2 linked regions of the Homo sapiens genome follow. The gene in region 1 interacts genetically with each later gene. Each region holds a gene or a part of one and is shown in the gene's direction. Other genes may lie near its edges.

Region 1 (7,036 bases):
GTCTAAGAGGGCAGATGGCTTGTGCTCCCTCCTGGCCCCACCTGGCTCTGTGTCGGGACTGTGGCTAGGGCTCCCTCTGCTGGACACTGCAGAGATTGTACACGGGCTGTCCCTGGGGAGGGGCACGAGAAGGAAGGGGGAACGGGCTCTAGCAGAGCCGCCCAGTGCTTGAAGTCAGATCCATCACACGAGTTCTCCCATCCCACCCTCAAAGCCGGCCCAGGGTTACAGCAAGAAGAATTAGAGGGTCCATGTTACTAAAATCACTTGAAGTTAATATAGGCACAATTAGTCCAAAACATGCCTTCTACACACAGACCACACAGGCAAAGCTCCCACCCAGGCAAAGCTCCCACCCAGTTCCCAAGAAGATCCCCAGAGTACACAGACTACAAGACTGCCTCTGCCTCTCTGGGACATCATTTCCCCTTACCCCTCCCCTCACTCAGCGAGTGATGCTTTTTTTGTTTTGAGACGGAGTCTAGCTCTGTCACCCAGGCTGGAGTGCAGTGGCACCATCTCGGCTCACTGAAACCTCCGCCTCCCAGGTTCAAGCGATTCTTCTGCCTCAGCCTTCCGAGTAGCTGGGATTACAGGCACCCGCCATCATGACTGGCTAATTTTTGTTTTTTTGTAGAGACGGGGGTTTCACCATGTTGGCCAGGCTGGTCTTCAACTGACCTCAGGTGATCCTCCCGCCTCAGCCTCTCAAAGCGTTGGAATTACAGGCGTGAGCCACTGTGCCCGGCTCAGTGATGCTCTTTTCAACTCGAATTCCGTGGCAGATGTCTTAGAGGGGTGGGGGATACCAGGGATGTTCTGCCCAGGATTCTGTGCCTGAGACTGCTGTCTGACAGTCTCTATTTCCTCCACCTTTATACCTACCTTCCCTTTCTGCAGTGTCCCCACACCCTCCTCTGAGACGCCATGTTCAACTCGATGACCCCACCACCAATCAGTAGCTATGGCGAGCCCTGCTGTCTCCGGCCCCTCCCCAGTCAGGGGGCCCCCAGTGTGGGGACAGAAGGTCAGTGTATATACCAATCCCTGGGCCTTGAGGATTTGGCAGATCTCCCACTTGGGCCCACCCCCACCCCATGCCAGTTTCCTATCTACAGGAGGATTTGAGGCCCCATGTCATATGGACCTGGAATCTGGGATCAGGTCATGTCTGGGGTTTTAAGGTGAGGTTTATGTATCCTCCATTCCCATTCCAGCTGTCTCTTTTTTCTAGGACTGTCTGGCCCGCCCTTCTGCCACCAAGCTAACCTCATGTCCGGCCCCCACAGTTATGGGCCAGCCAGAGAGACCAACAGCTGCACCGAGGGTGAGGGCTCAGGCAACACCTCTTCCCTTTCTGCCCCTCTCTGACTTGTTCTGAAAGAGAAAGTGGGAGGGCAGGGGATCTCACTTGGAGGAGGAGATGCTTGGAGATGTGAGGCGTCAGAGCACCATCAAGAAGTCACAGATGGGGCCGGGCGCGGTGGCTCACGCCTGTAATCCCAGCACTTTGTGGGGAAGCCGTGGCAGGAAGATCGCTTGAGGTCGGGAATTCAAGACCAGCCAGGCCAACATGGTGAAACCCTGTCTCTACTAACAATACAAAAATTAGCCGGGCGTGGTGGCTTGCACCTGTAGTGCCGATTACAGGGGAGGCTGAGGCAGGAGAATCACTTGAACCTGGGAACGCAGAGGTTGCAGTGAGGCAAGATGGTGCCACGCACTCCAGCCTGGGTTACAGAGCATGACTCTGTGTCTCTCAAAAAAAAAAAAAAAAAGTCACAGATAGCATCAATAGGGCAAAGCAGAATCAAGTATCATTGGTTTTGCCAAGTCAGGACCCATAGGTTAGGTGCATGGAGAGACATGCCCCTTTACCATATCCGTCTCCGCTGTCTCCTGCCCCAGGCCCACTCTTTTCTTCTCCCCGGAGTGCAGTCAAGTTGACCAAGAAGCGGGCACTGTCCATCTCACCTCTGTCGGATGCCAGCCTGGACCTGCAGACGGTTATCCGCACCTCACCCAGCTCCCTCGTAGCTTTCATCAACTCGCGATGCACATCTCCAGGAGGCTCCTACGGTCATCTCTCCATTGGCACCATGAGGTGCAGTCAGCCCCGGGCCAAGAGGCCCCTAAAGCCCCTACCCAAGTCCATTAAAAGTCTCAAGCCCTCAAACTACCTAACCCTATTTGAATCCTTGTCATTTCAAAGACAACTCTCCTCAGTACTTCCCTGGGACTGCCTCAACCACTACAAATCCCAAGTCTTCCAGAAATCCTCCAAATAGCCCAATCCTTCCTGAGACTTCCTAATTGTCTTAAGTAACTGCCTCCTCTCCTCCTCAGCCCATCTCTGGGATTCCCAGCCCAGATGAATCACCAAAAAGGGCCCTCGCCTTCCTTTGGGGTCCAGCCTTGTGGTCCCCATGACTCTGCCCGGGGTGGGATGATCCCACATCCTCAGTCCCGGGGACCCTTCCCAACTTGCCAGGTGAGAGTCCCCATATTGCTACCTGATTTCCCTCAGCTCAGGGTGGGTGGGTGGTGGATTTTGTAGGGGAAAGGTGAAGGAAGGACAAGGGATATAAGTTTTCAGTACTAGAAAAGTAAAGAGGTGTGGGTGCTGGGGTTCACTCCTTGCAGTTGAGTCAGACGCTTCCAAATGGGATCCCACCTTTTGCCCATCCCATTCACCAGTGTAGTCTGAGGAGGAAGTCCCTTCCAAACCCAGGAGGTTCCAGCTGCTTGGGTGGGGGCACTTAGGGCAGGAAGACCTGGCTTGGTTTCCTCTTCCTTCTGCTTACTTCCACCCTCATCACCGTCACCTCTTCCCCTGGGGAAGCTGAAGTCTGAGCTGGACATGCTGGTTGGCAAGTGCCGGGAGGAACCCTTGGAAGGTGATATGTCCAGCCCCAACTCCACAGGCATACAGGTAAGGGGATGGGCAGGAGCTTTACCTCTGGGACCTGAGCAAAACTAAAGCTGTCACCCAAGTGACCCTGAGATTGCCTCTCTTGCCCTAGGATCCCCTGTTGGGGATGCTGGATGGGCGGGAGGACCTCGAGAGAGAGGAGAAGCGTGAGCCTGAATCTGTGTATGAAACTGACTGCCGTTGGGATGGCTGCAGCCAGGAATTTGACTCCCAAGAGCAGCTGGTGCACGTGAGCCCCAGGGGGTAACAGGAATGGCTAGCCAGAACCTTTAGGAGATTCTGAGTGGGACATGGTGGAATCCGGCTGAGGGCAGGAGGTCAGAGGAGACTGAGGTTGAATGCTCAGTTGGGTAGGCAGAAGCTCAGAAGTTGTAGCTTTGCCTTAGGGAGCTGGAAGACCTGAGATGTGAGATATGATATTGCTCCTGCCTCTTCCTCCTTGAGGTGGAGTCGTGGAAGAGGAACAGGGGGTGGAGGGAAGGTCTGTTCTGGACCTCAGGGTCATGGGAGAGCCTTGGAGAGCCTTTGTATCTTCTCCCTCAGCACATCAACAGCGAGCACATCCACGGGGAGCGGAAGGAGTTCGTGTGCCACTGGGGGGGCTGCTCCAGGGAGCTGAGGCCCTTCAAAGCCCAGTACATGCTGGTGGTTCACATGCGCAGACACACTGGCGAGAAGCCACACAAGTGCACGGTGAGGCACCAGTGTCCCAAGTCCAGGGTCTCTTCCTAAATCAGGGCTCTCCTTCAAGGTAGGGCCCAAGGCAGACTTTTGCTTTTATAAGTCCTTTCTTCCATAAACAAATATTAAAAATAATGTTTGTGTGACTGTGTTGGCATAAAGATGAATATGATGATATATATTAAAACACTCTTGGACCTAAAAGCTCATTTTTTTCCCCTTGATTTTAAAAGACATTAAAACAGGCCAGGCACGGTGGCTCACACCTGTAATCCCAGCACTTTGGGAGGCTGAGCCAGGCAGATCACAAGGTCAGGAGTTCGAGACCAGCTTGGCCAATATTGGTGAAACCCTGTCTCTACTAAAAAATATAAAAATTAGCTGGGCGTGGTGATGGGCGCCTGTAGTCCCTGCTACTTGGGAGGATGAGGCAGAAGAATCACTTGAACCAAGGAGGTGGAGGTTGCAGTGAGCTGAGATGGCGCCACTGCACTCCAGCCTGGGCGACAGAGCAAAACTCCGCCTCAAAAAAAAAATTTTTTTTAAAAAAGACATTAAAACATGTTCGTGGGCCTCTTAAAGTATTGTTGGCCTTCAGTACTGTGCCTACTACTCTGCCTAATGGATAAACCCTGCATCAAGGACAACAGCCCGTTCCCCCAAGATGACCCCATCTTGGGACAGCCTAAGATCCCCATGCAGAGAAATCTGCCCTGGCTTGGTCAGAAGATGCTCTAGCATCTTTATATTCCCAAAGGGAGAGTGCCTCCAACTGCTTCCCTTCTCCAAGTTCTTGCCTGCCCTTGTCCCCTAGTTTTGGGAATTCTCTCGAAGCCCCAGTGCCTTTCATCTTGAGTTATATTCTCTGATGTGTGTCCTGTTGGAGATTGAGGGTTCCTTCCATCTCCATGTCCTCTGTCTGAGAACTATCCTTTGACCCCTGCATGTCCCCCAGTTTGAAGGGTGCCGGAAGTCATACTCACGCCTCGAAAACCTGAAGACGCACCTGCGGTCACACACGGGTGAGAAGCCATACATGTGTGAGCACGAGGGCTGCAGTAAAGCCTTCAGCAATGCCAGTGACCGAGCCAAGCACCAGAATCGGACCCATTCCAATGAGGTGAATGCCCTAACTAAGCGACCCTCCCCTCTTGAGAAGCCACCTACCAGGGAGATTCCCCCATAAGAAATCCCTTAGCCCAGCACCCACTCCACAGAGGTGAGTCCCCCTCCCCACATAATTCGCCCAGAAAAGGCTTTTCTGAAACCCAGAATTTCCACTTAACCACTCCTCCTCCTACCTCTAACCTCTAACCAGCCAAAAGGCTAACCTAAAAGATTCCATCTAGAGGAGACCCCTGATCCCTCCAACCCCTGGATTTATGGGACCTCACAGCCCTGGGTTCACCCCCTCATCTTTCCCAGGCTGTCAGTTTTCCTAACCCTCCACTTAATCTCTGCATCTTTGACTCCCACCGGAGGCCTCCATCCTCCTTACTTCCTTTGGTGCTGTGTGCTCCTCCCCTGCCCCCTGTGTTGTCACCACTTTTTCCCATTTCTTCTGCATTCTTCCGCTTTGATCCGTTTGCCTTCTGTCTCCACTCTCCACTCAACAGAAGCCGTATGTATGTAAGCTCCCTGGCTGCACCAAACGCTATACAGATCCTAGCTCGCTGCGAAAACATGTCAAGACAGTGCATGGTCCTGACGCCCATGTGACCAAACGGCACCGTGGGGATGGCCCCCTGCCTCGGGCACCATCCATTTCTACAGTGGAGCCCAAGAGGGAGCGGGAAGGAGGTCCCATCAGGGAGGAAAGCAGACTGACTGTGCCAGAGGGTGCCATGGTGAGAGAGCCCAGGCAACCCTCACCTCCATACCCCAGCCCACCCTGTGGACATCTTTCTAGTTACTTCCCAACCCATCCATTCCCTCCTATAGAAGTCACTCTTCTGTGACCAGTCTGCCTGTCTCTTGTCTTAGTGTTGCTCTTTGGGCTTCCCCAAATCTAGAGGTTTTAGAATCTTTCTGTCTCACTCTCTCACTCTCTTTCTCTCTCTCCTTCCTTCCTTCTTTCCTTCTTTCCTTTCTTCCTTTCTTTCTTTCTCTCTCTCTCTCTTTCTCTCTTTCTTTCTGACAGAGTCTTGCTCTGTCGCCCAGGCTGGAGTGTAGTGGCATAATCATAGCTCACTGCAGCCTCAAACTTCTGGGCTCAAGTGATCACTACAGGCACACCCCATCATGCCTGGCTAATTTTTCTTCTTTTTAGAGATCGAGTCTTGCTATGTTGACCAGGCTGGTCTCAAACTCCTGGCCTTGAGCGATCCTCCCACCTCAGCTTCCCACAGTGCTGGGATGAGCCAATGCATCCAACCCAAACTCTTTCTTTTTTTTTCAGACGGAGTCTCGCTCTGTTGCCCAGGCTGGAGTGCAGTGGCATGATCTCGGCTCACTGCAACCTCCGCCTCCCAGGTTCACGCCATTCTGCCTCAGCCTCCTGAGTAGCTGGGACTACAGGCGCCTGCCACCACGCCGGGCTAATTTTTTTGTATTTTTAGTAGACATGGGGTTTCACTGTGTTAACCAGGGTGGTCTTGATCTCCTGACCTCGTGATCTGCCCACCTCGGCCTCCCAAAGTGCTGGGATTACAGGCGTGAGCCACTGCACCCGGCAACTCTTTCTTAAATAGCACTTAGTATATGTTCCAAGCCTTTTACATGTATAATTTCATGTACTCCTCACAGCAACTTCATGATAAAGGGACTCACTGTTCCCATTTTCAGTTGAAGAAACTCAGGCATAGAGAAATAGCCCAAGGTCATAGAACTAAGAGCAAGAATTTGAGTCCAGCCAGTCCGTGCTCCAGCCTAGGTTCTTCTCATCAAACGTCTCACATTCAGTTTGCTCCCCCATCTCTTACCTGCTTAGCCCTTTCTACACTTACAAGCTTCCTTGGAACCCCAGCAGTCACTGGGACACAGGCTTCAGCCACTCATCAAGTTGAAGGAGCTGTGGGGAAGGGTGTTGCCCTCAGACCTCATCTTCTCCACAGAAGCCACAGCCAAGCCCTGGGGCCCAGTCATCCTGCAGCAGTGACCACTCCCCGGCAGGGAGTGCAGCCAATACAGACAGTGGTGTGGAAATGACTGGCAATGCAGGGGGCAGCACTGAAGACCTCTCCAGCTTGGACGAGGGACCTTGCATTGCTGGCACTGGTCTGTCCACTCTTCGCCGCCTTGAGAACCTCAGGCTGGACCAGCTACATCAACTCCGGCCAATAGGGACCCGGGGTCTCAAACTGCCCAGCTTGTCCCACACCGGTGAGACCTGGGTGTGGGAGGTGTGGCTGGGGTGAGATCTGGACCTGCCCTGAGGTTGAGAGGAGGAAGTCACCCTTGAGGGCTGTCACACAGCACTTTTGT
Region 2 (6,515 bases), on another chromosome or scaffold:
GTACTCATCTATTGATGGACACTTGGGTTGTTTCACCTTTTTTGCCATTGTGAATAATGCTGCTGTGAACATTGGCATACAAATGTGTTTGTGTCGCTGCTTTCAGTTCTTTTGGGTATGTACCTAGGAGGGGATTACTGGGTCATATGTTAACTTTGTTTAATTTTTGAGGAACCACCAAACTTTTTCACAGCAGCTGCACTATTTTATATTCCCCAAAAGATGTATAATTTTAAACTATTTAAGCCCTGTACACTAGAGCTAATCCCTTGAAGATTGGGACCTTACTTGTCTTATTTGGAGGTGCTTGTTAAATTTATGTAGTAGTATGATACCTGTACTTAAGCATCACTCAAGGGTAAGTGTTCTAGGAAGGTTGATTTAGCTTATATGGAAGAACTGTTGAATAATGGCTTGATGAAAATCTCTTCAGAAATTAAAGTGTATGTTTCTTCCAACAAGAGTTCCTATTTGCCAGGTGCTGTGTGTGCTTAGATCCTGAGGGTATAAAGTCAAGACGGTACTGCTCCTCCCTGTAGTAAGTCCTTTTATCAGGGAAAGCGGATGAATAGAGTGATTTTTAGGGTTAAAATGGCAGGGTGAGGTTGTTCCACAGACCTTCCACTCTGAATCAAGAAAAAAAATTACCAAAAAAATCCTGTCCTAAACTATACCGTCCATAAATTGCAACCAAACAAAGAAGGAACAACTTTAAGTTACATCTCAAAATGGTGGCCAAAGAAAAGATTCTGAAAGACTGGATGATTGGTATGGGGGTAACACAAAGGCCTGCCCTCATTCCCAGAAATAGTAATGAGGGAAAATTAGTTAACATATACTGGAAATTCTCAATTTGGAGAAGTAGACTGTGGGGTTAAATAGGCAGTCCCAAGAGAAGTTATGGAAACAGGAGTGGAAGTCCAGAGGAGCCCAGTAGAGGCAGGCTGTGTTCACCAAAGTCAATCAGGGCTCAGCCAGAAAAACAGAATTGGGAGAGATGTGTTAAGAGATTTATTTCTGCTGGGCGTGGTGGCTCACGCCTGTAATCCCAGCACTTTGGGAGGCCGAGGTGGGCGGGTCATGAGGTCAGGAGTTGGAGACCAGCCTGGCCAACATGGTGAAACCCCGTCTCTGCTAAAAATACAAAAATTAGCCAGGCATGGTGGCGGGTGCCTGTAATCCCAACTACTTGGGAGGCTGAGGCAGGAGAATTGCTTGAACCCAGGTGGCAGAGGTTGCAGTGAGCCGAGATCAGCGCCACTGCACTCCAGCCCGGGCGACAGAGCGGGACTCCATCTCAAAAAAAAAAAAAAAAAAAAAAAAAAGCTTTATTGCAAAGAATTTGGTTTACGTGATTGTGGGGGCTGTCTAGGCCCTTAATTGTCAAATCTGTAGGGCAGGTTCTCAGGAAGGAAAGGCTGCTCTTAGGGCCTTTCAACTAATAGAATCAGGCCTCCCCAGATTATATAGGATAGACCTCTGAATTTAAGGTCAATTGGTTGTTGACTTTAGTCACATCTATAAAATATCTCACAGCAATACCTAGGTTAGTGTTTGGTTGAATATCTGGGGACTGTAGCTTCGTCAAGCTGACACAAGTACTGAACCCCACCCTGTCCTCAAGCTTCTGACTAGTGATGAAAAAGCAACACTTGGCACTCCAATTGTTGGTCTGGAAAGACAGTCCTTAGAAGGTGGGAAGCTTGTGTAGGTTTCACACTGTCAGAACTGATAAAAGGTGTGATATAAATCCCCCAAATTAATTAAGAGCAAGACAATATTGAAAATATTTTTAGAAAGGAAAAAATTCTTTCTGGTATATATCATCATAAGTATGTACTGTGTATCAGAATATAGACTGAGCATCGCAAGTCCAAAATCTGAAATGCCACAAAATCTGAAACTTTTGAGAGCTGACGTGACACCGGTGGAAAATTGCACACATAAGTTCTTGACCTCTTTTTTTTTTTTTTTTTTTGAGACAGAGTCTTGCTCTGTCATCCAGGCTGGAGTGCAGTGGCGCGATCTCGGCTCACTGCAACCTCTGCCTCCCAGGTATAAGCGATTCTCCTGCCTCAGCCTCCTGAGTAGCTGGGATTACAGGCGTGCACCAAACTTCCTTTCATGCACACAATTACTTAAAATGATGTATAAAATTGTATTCCAGCTGTGTATAAGGTATGTTTGAAACATAAATGAGTTTCTTATTTAAACTTGGGTCACAACCCCAAGATATCTTACGTATATGCAAAAATTCTAAAATTTGAAAAAACCTAAAACGCTTCTAGTCCCATGTATTTTGGGTAAGGGATACTGAACCTATAATTGATACAGAATAGTTAACATCAAAATATCAGGTTGAAAAAAGGTCACCTCTGAGACAGATAAACCAATGTGACCTCAGGTTTTTTTGTTTTTGAGACAGAGTCTCAGTCTGTCACCCAGGCTGGAGCACAGTGGCACAGTCTTGGCTCACTGCAGCCTCCGCCTCCCAGGTCAAGCGATTCTCTTGTCTCAGCCTCTCGAGTAGCTGGGATTATAGGCTACAGATGTGTGCCACAACGCCTGGCTAATTTTTGGATTTTTAGTAGAAACGGGGTTTCACCATGTTGGCCAGGCTGCTCTCGAACTTGAGCTCCTGGCCTCAGGTGATCCACCCGCCTTGGCCTCCCAAAGTGCTGGGATTACAGGCATGAGCCTCCGCACCTGGCAAAAAAATGTATACTAGGTTATTTCTAAGATGCTTATATGTTAAAATATTTTTTTCAGATTGTTCTCTTATTAGCTCAGGGGACTATATGAAAGTTGGATTCAAGTCAATATTTGCAGGGTAAGAAACTATTGTGACAAGAGCCTGTGCTTCATTGTAAGAAACTTTTGTATATTTCATTGGCTCTAGTACTCTTATCTGTTGTAAAACTTACAATTCTATCTAAGAAAGAAGAAACACATCTGGCTGGGCGCAGTGGCTCACGCTTGTAATCAATCCCAGCACTTTGGGAGGCCAAGATAGGTGGATCACTTGAAGTCAGGAGTTCGAGACCAGCATGGCCAACATGGTGAAACCCTGTCTCTACTAAAAATAGAAAAATTACCTGGGCGTGGTGGTGGGCGTCTGTAATCCCAGCTACTCAGGAGGCTGAGGCAGGAGAATTGCTTGAACCTGGGAGGCGGAGGTTGCAGTGAGCTGAGGTCACGCCACTGCACTCTAGCCTGGGCGACAGAGCGAGACTCTCTCAAAAACAAAACGTCAGTATGAAAATGCTTTCCTAGTACATTGATTCTAAGATACATTCCAATTTCAGAGATGCTAAAATGTGGAAGGGTACATGTCTTAGAACTAATGGGATACATCTATTTTGCATATTTGGATTTATTTGGACTAGTTACCCTTAGGTAAATCACTAGGCCATAAGGTGTTGTGTAGCAACAGAAGATAGCATATAGAATCTCTGAAGTCCCTTTTAGCACTAAGAGTCTAATTAATTGAAATTTCCAGCAGTAAGGCTGGTACATGGAGTTTTTGGAGGCAAATAGTATTTTTAGCTGCTTTAAAATTAATCTCTAGTATAAGACCCTGGCAGTTTCTAATGTAAATCACAACTCAGATATATGTAATTAACTCATTGTTAGTATCCCTTTTAATATTATTGCTGATTAATAAGCAAATGTAAATGTCTTTTTTAAAAAAAATCCAGGATGGATGCAACCTTGAAAGAACTGACAAGCTTAGTAAAAGAAGTCTACCCAGAAGCTAGAAAGAAGGGCACTCACTTCAATTTTGCAATCGTTTTTACAGATGTTAAAAGACCTGGCTATCGGTAGGTAACTTCTCATTTTTAAGTCCTGTAATCTCTTTGTTTTTAGTATGTTTTAACTGATACAGATAACTCCTTCAATGAATCTTGTTAGTGGGAGAATATGGGTTTATATTAATACGTGGTTTGGCTTAATAAAGTAGTTAAATTTTGGAAGTGTGTTATAAAATGATGGAGAAAATCCAGTGCCATATTCACTTTGTAGTACATACTGGGTTTCATTGATTTGGATCCATTAACAGTTGATTTTCTTTCTTACAGAGTTAAGGAGATTGGCAGCACCATGTCTGGCAGAAAGGGGACTGATGATTCCATGACCCTGCAGTCGCAGAAGTTCCAGATAGGAGATTACTTGGACATAGCAATTACCCCTCCAAATCGGGCACCACCTCCTTCAGGGCGCATGAGACCATATTAAATTCTATTTACTATTTGTTGAATTTATTTTTCCGTCAGTTATGTAAAATAAACATACTCTTCTTCCTCCCCTGATTATTGCCATTAAGCCTTTAAATTCTAAACAAATTATAATGCATCATCTATTTAGGAGTTAGATTTGGATGTGCTATTGTATGATTACGAATAGTCTGTATGTTTCAAGCCCTTCTGTAAAATATGAAGAAAAGTGCTCTTAGCATTCTGTGTAAAACTGTACTGTTAAATATATGTGTGTAATCAGCCTGAGTGTGAAAGTTAATGGAGGCCTGGGAACAGGGTTTATACTAAGTAGTGGAGGAGCGTATGGTTAAGCCCAAAGGGGCAGAACAAGAAAGCCACGGGATTGTATGAAATCAAACATGAGTTTGTGGTGTAGACTGCTGTATGCAGTTGGAAAGGACACGTGAGAGTGAGCTCAAGTGGCAGCAGAGGCAGTTTGGAATAAGCTGCGGCAAGTTGAAGAAGCTGTGTTGGACGAGATTGCCCCGCCTTGATCAGGGTACCATGACATAAAAGGTTAAAGAACAGGCAACACAATGAGCACTTAAGTTTTTAACATGTGGGGAATAGGGCATTTTAAAGGCTGGAACCAGTTCAGAGGAAACAAGGGTTTGGGTAGAGGTAGAAAGGTTTAATTAACCCTGGAGATCTGCAAATGGAGGGAGGGGTGAAGGAGGAATCTTAAGACCGAGGGAGAAGAGCCAAGGACAAGGTCAGGTTGAATGAGTAGGAGGTGTTCACACATCCTCTTGTGTGCTAGGTAGTGGCGTGCATCTGATCTGAGAGGCAGTAAAGCAGTGATGAAGACAGTGCAGCAGAACATTGAAGTCCTGATTGCAGCAGTGACTCTGCAACCTTGGATAAATTATTTCAATCTTTATTTTGTAAAACGGAGATAACGGCCTATAGGATTGTTAAGACTGAATATTTTAAAAGAGCTTAGAATGGTGCCTGACAAATGAGAAACAATAAATACTGATTATTGGCCATAAAGTGGTATTAAAACTGGATCTCTTTTCTTCCATGGCACTACTCTCATTTTGAAGTTTATGAACAGTACGACAGTGTATTGTAAATTCCCTTTAGTTTGTTACAGTAGCCAATTGAAAATGTATATCCCAAAATTTAAAAAAAAAAGTACCAGCAGCAATAAAATTGCACTAGTTTTATCTGGTACATACAAAAACAGCCATTTAAAATCTGATGATTCTGTGGAATTGGTGTCCCTGTTAGCAATGGCAGAGACCAGCCTGGAGCCTAGATCTGGTGCTTCTTCTGTGCTGTGGTTTACCCCAAACCTTTAGGTTGTTTATTCATTCAGATTAGATAGACTGGAGCCATAAAGTTAATTTGCACCTAGCTTTTTGGAGAATAGCCATGATTAACTGCTATTCGTGGTGGGGGTGGGGGGGAACCCTATGATTTACTATGCAGATGAAGAGGGTAGGAACTAAATAAAGGACTTTGTAAGCCAAAGTGGTTGGGCTGCTTTGTCAAATTCCACCCTTTGCTTGGTTCCAACATGGAATTTCTCCTTTAAAGATTTCAATATCCCATCAAAAGTACAGTTAGAGAATACCTAGTGAATTTATTGAATATAATGCTAAGAATCAAAAGACTTGTACTAGTTTACCTCTGGCTTTGGTAAGTGTGGCTTTGAGTAATAACTGAGCTGTTTCCCCGCATATAAAATAGAAATAAATAAGTAGTCATCATGACAGCATCTTGCTCAGTGCTTTAGTGTCTGCCCTGGTTGCCTCATTTGCTCCTAGGTATTTTGGAATTGACGTTTTCCCTTTGGAATATGTGTTACAGTACATGATATTGCCTATAATGTCTTTTTAGTTTTTCACGGTGTACAAAAACTGGGACGGTTATGCCCAGCTGATCATTGACTCAGGTAATGTTTTAGGTATCGGTTGTATGCATGTGAGGGGCAGGTGTGAATGTAGAAAGAAACATTATTAGGCTAGGTTTAAAATTCTCTAAAGTTGAACATAATAAGGAGCTGAACTTGATGCACCTCTTTCTTGTTCAATTAAACACATTTCAGACTTGTTTTTGTGAAATAGAAGGCAACACTCTAAATCAAGTTTGTAACTATGATTTAAGTGTTTACTTGTGCCAAACACAGATGGTTCCCAAGTTATGATAGTTCAACTTTAGATTTTTCAGCTTTGCAGTGGCGCATAAGCGATAAGCCATTCACTACGGTCCTCAGCTTATTATGGGGCTACATCCCAATAAACCAGCTGCCAA

Evidence for each region. A genetic interaction does not mean that the proteins touch.
Region 2: of GLI1 (region 1) and SAP18, changing one suppresses a phenotype caused by changing the other (phenotypic suppression), as found in Homo sapiens cells (one study listed by BioGRID).

What each region holds. Positions count from the first base shown.
Region 1 is NC_000012.12:57,462,765-57,469,800, forward strand, and holds part of GLI1 (zinc finger protein GLI1), read left to right. Parts: exon of another isoform or gene 1-208; intron 209-900; 5' UTR 901-927; coding exon 928-1,027; intron 1,028-1,234; coding exon 1,235-1,327; intron 1,328-1,908; coding exon 1,909-2,104; intron 2,105-2,346; coding exon 2,347-2,491; intron 2,492-2,842; coding exon 2,843-2,932; intron 2,933-3,023; coding exon 3,024-3,161; intron 3,162-3,475; coding exon 3,476-3,625; intron 3,626-4,568; coding exon 4,569-4,733; intron 4,734-5,229; coding exon 5,230-5,460; intron 5,461-6,666; coding exon 6,667-6,934; intron 6,935-7,036. UniProt on the Homo sapiens protein: Acts as a transcriptional activator. Binds to the DNA consensus sequence 5'-GACCACCCA-3'. Regulates the transcription of specific genes during normal development.
Region 2 is NC_000013.11:21,143,107-21,149,621, forward strand, and holds the end of SAP18 (histone deacetylase complex subunit SAP18), read left to right. Parts: intron 1-1,985; coding exon of another isoform or gene 1,986-2,178; intron 2,179-3,698; coding exon 3,699-3,821; intron 3,822-4,079; coding exon 4,080-4,236; 3' UTR 4,237-5,991; downstream 5,992-6,515. UniProt on the Homo sapiens protein: Component of the SIN3-repressing complex. Enhances the ability of SIN3-HDAC1-mediated transcriptional repression. When tethered to the promoter, it can direct the formation of a repressive complex to core histone proteins.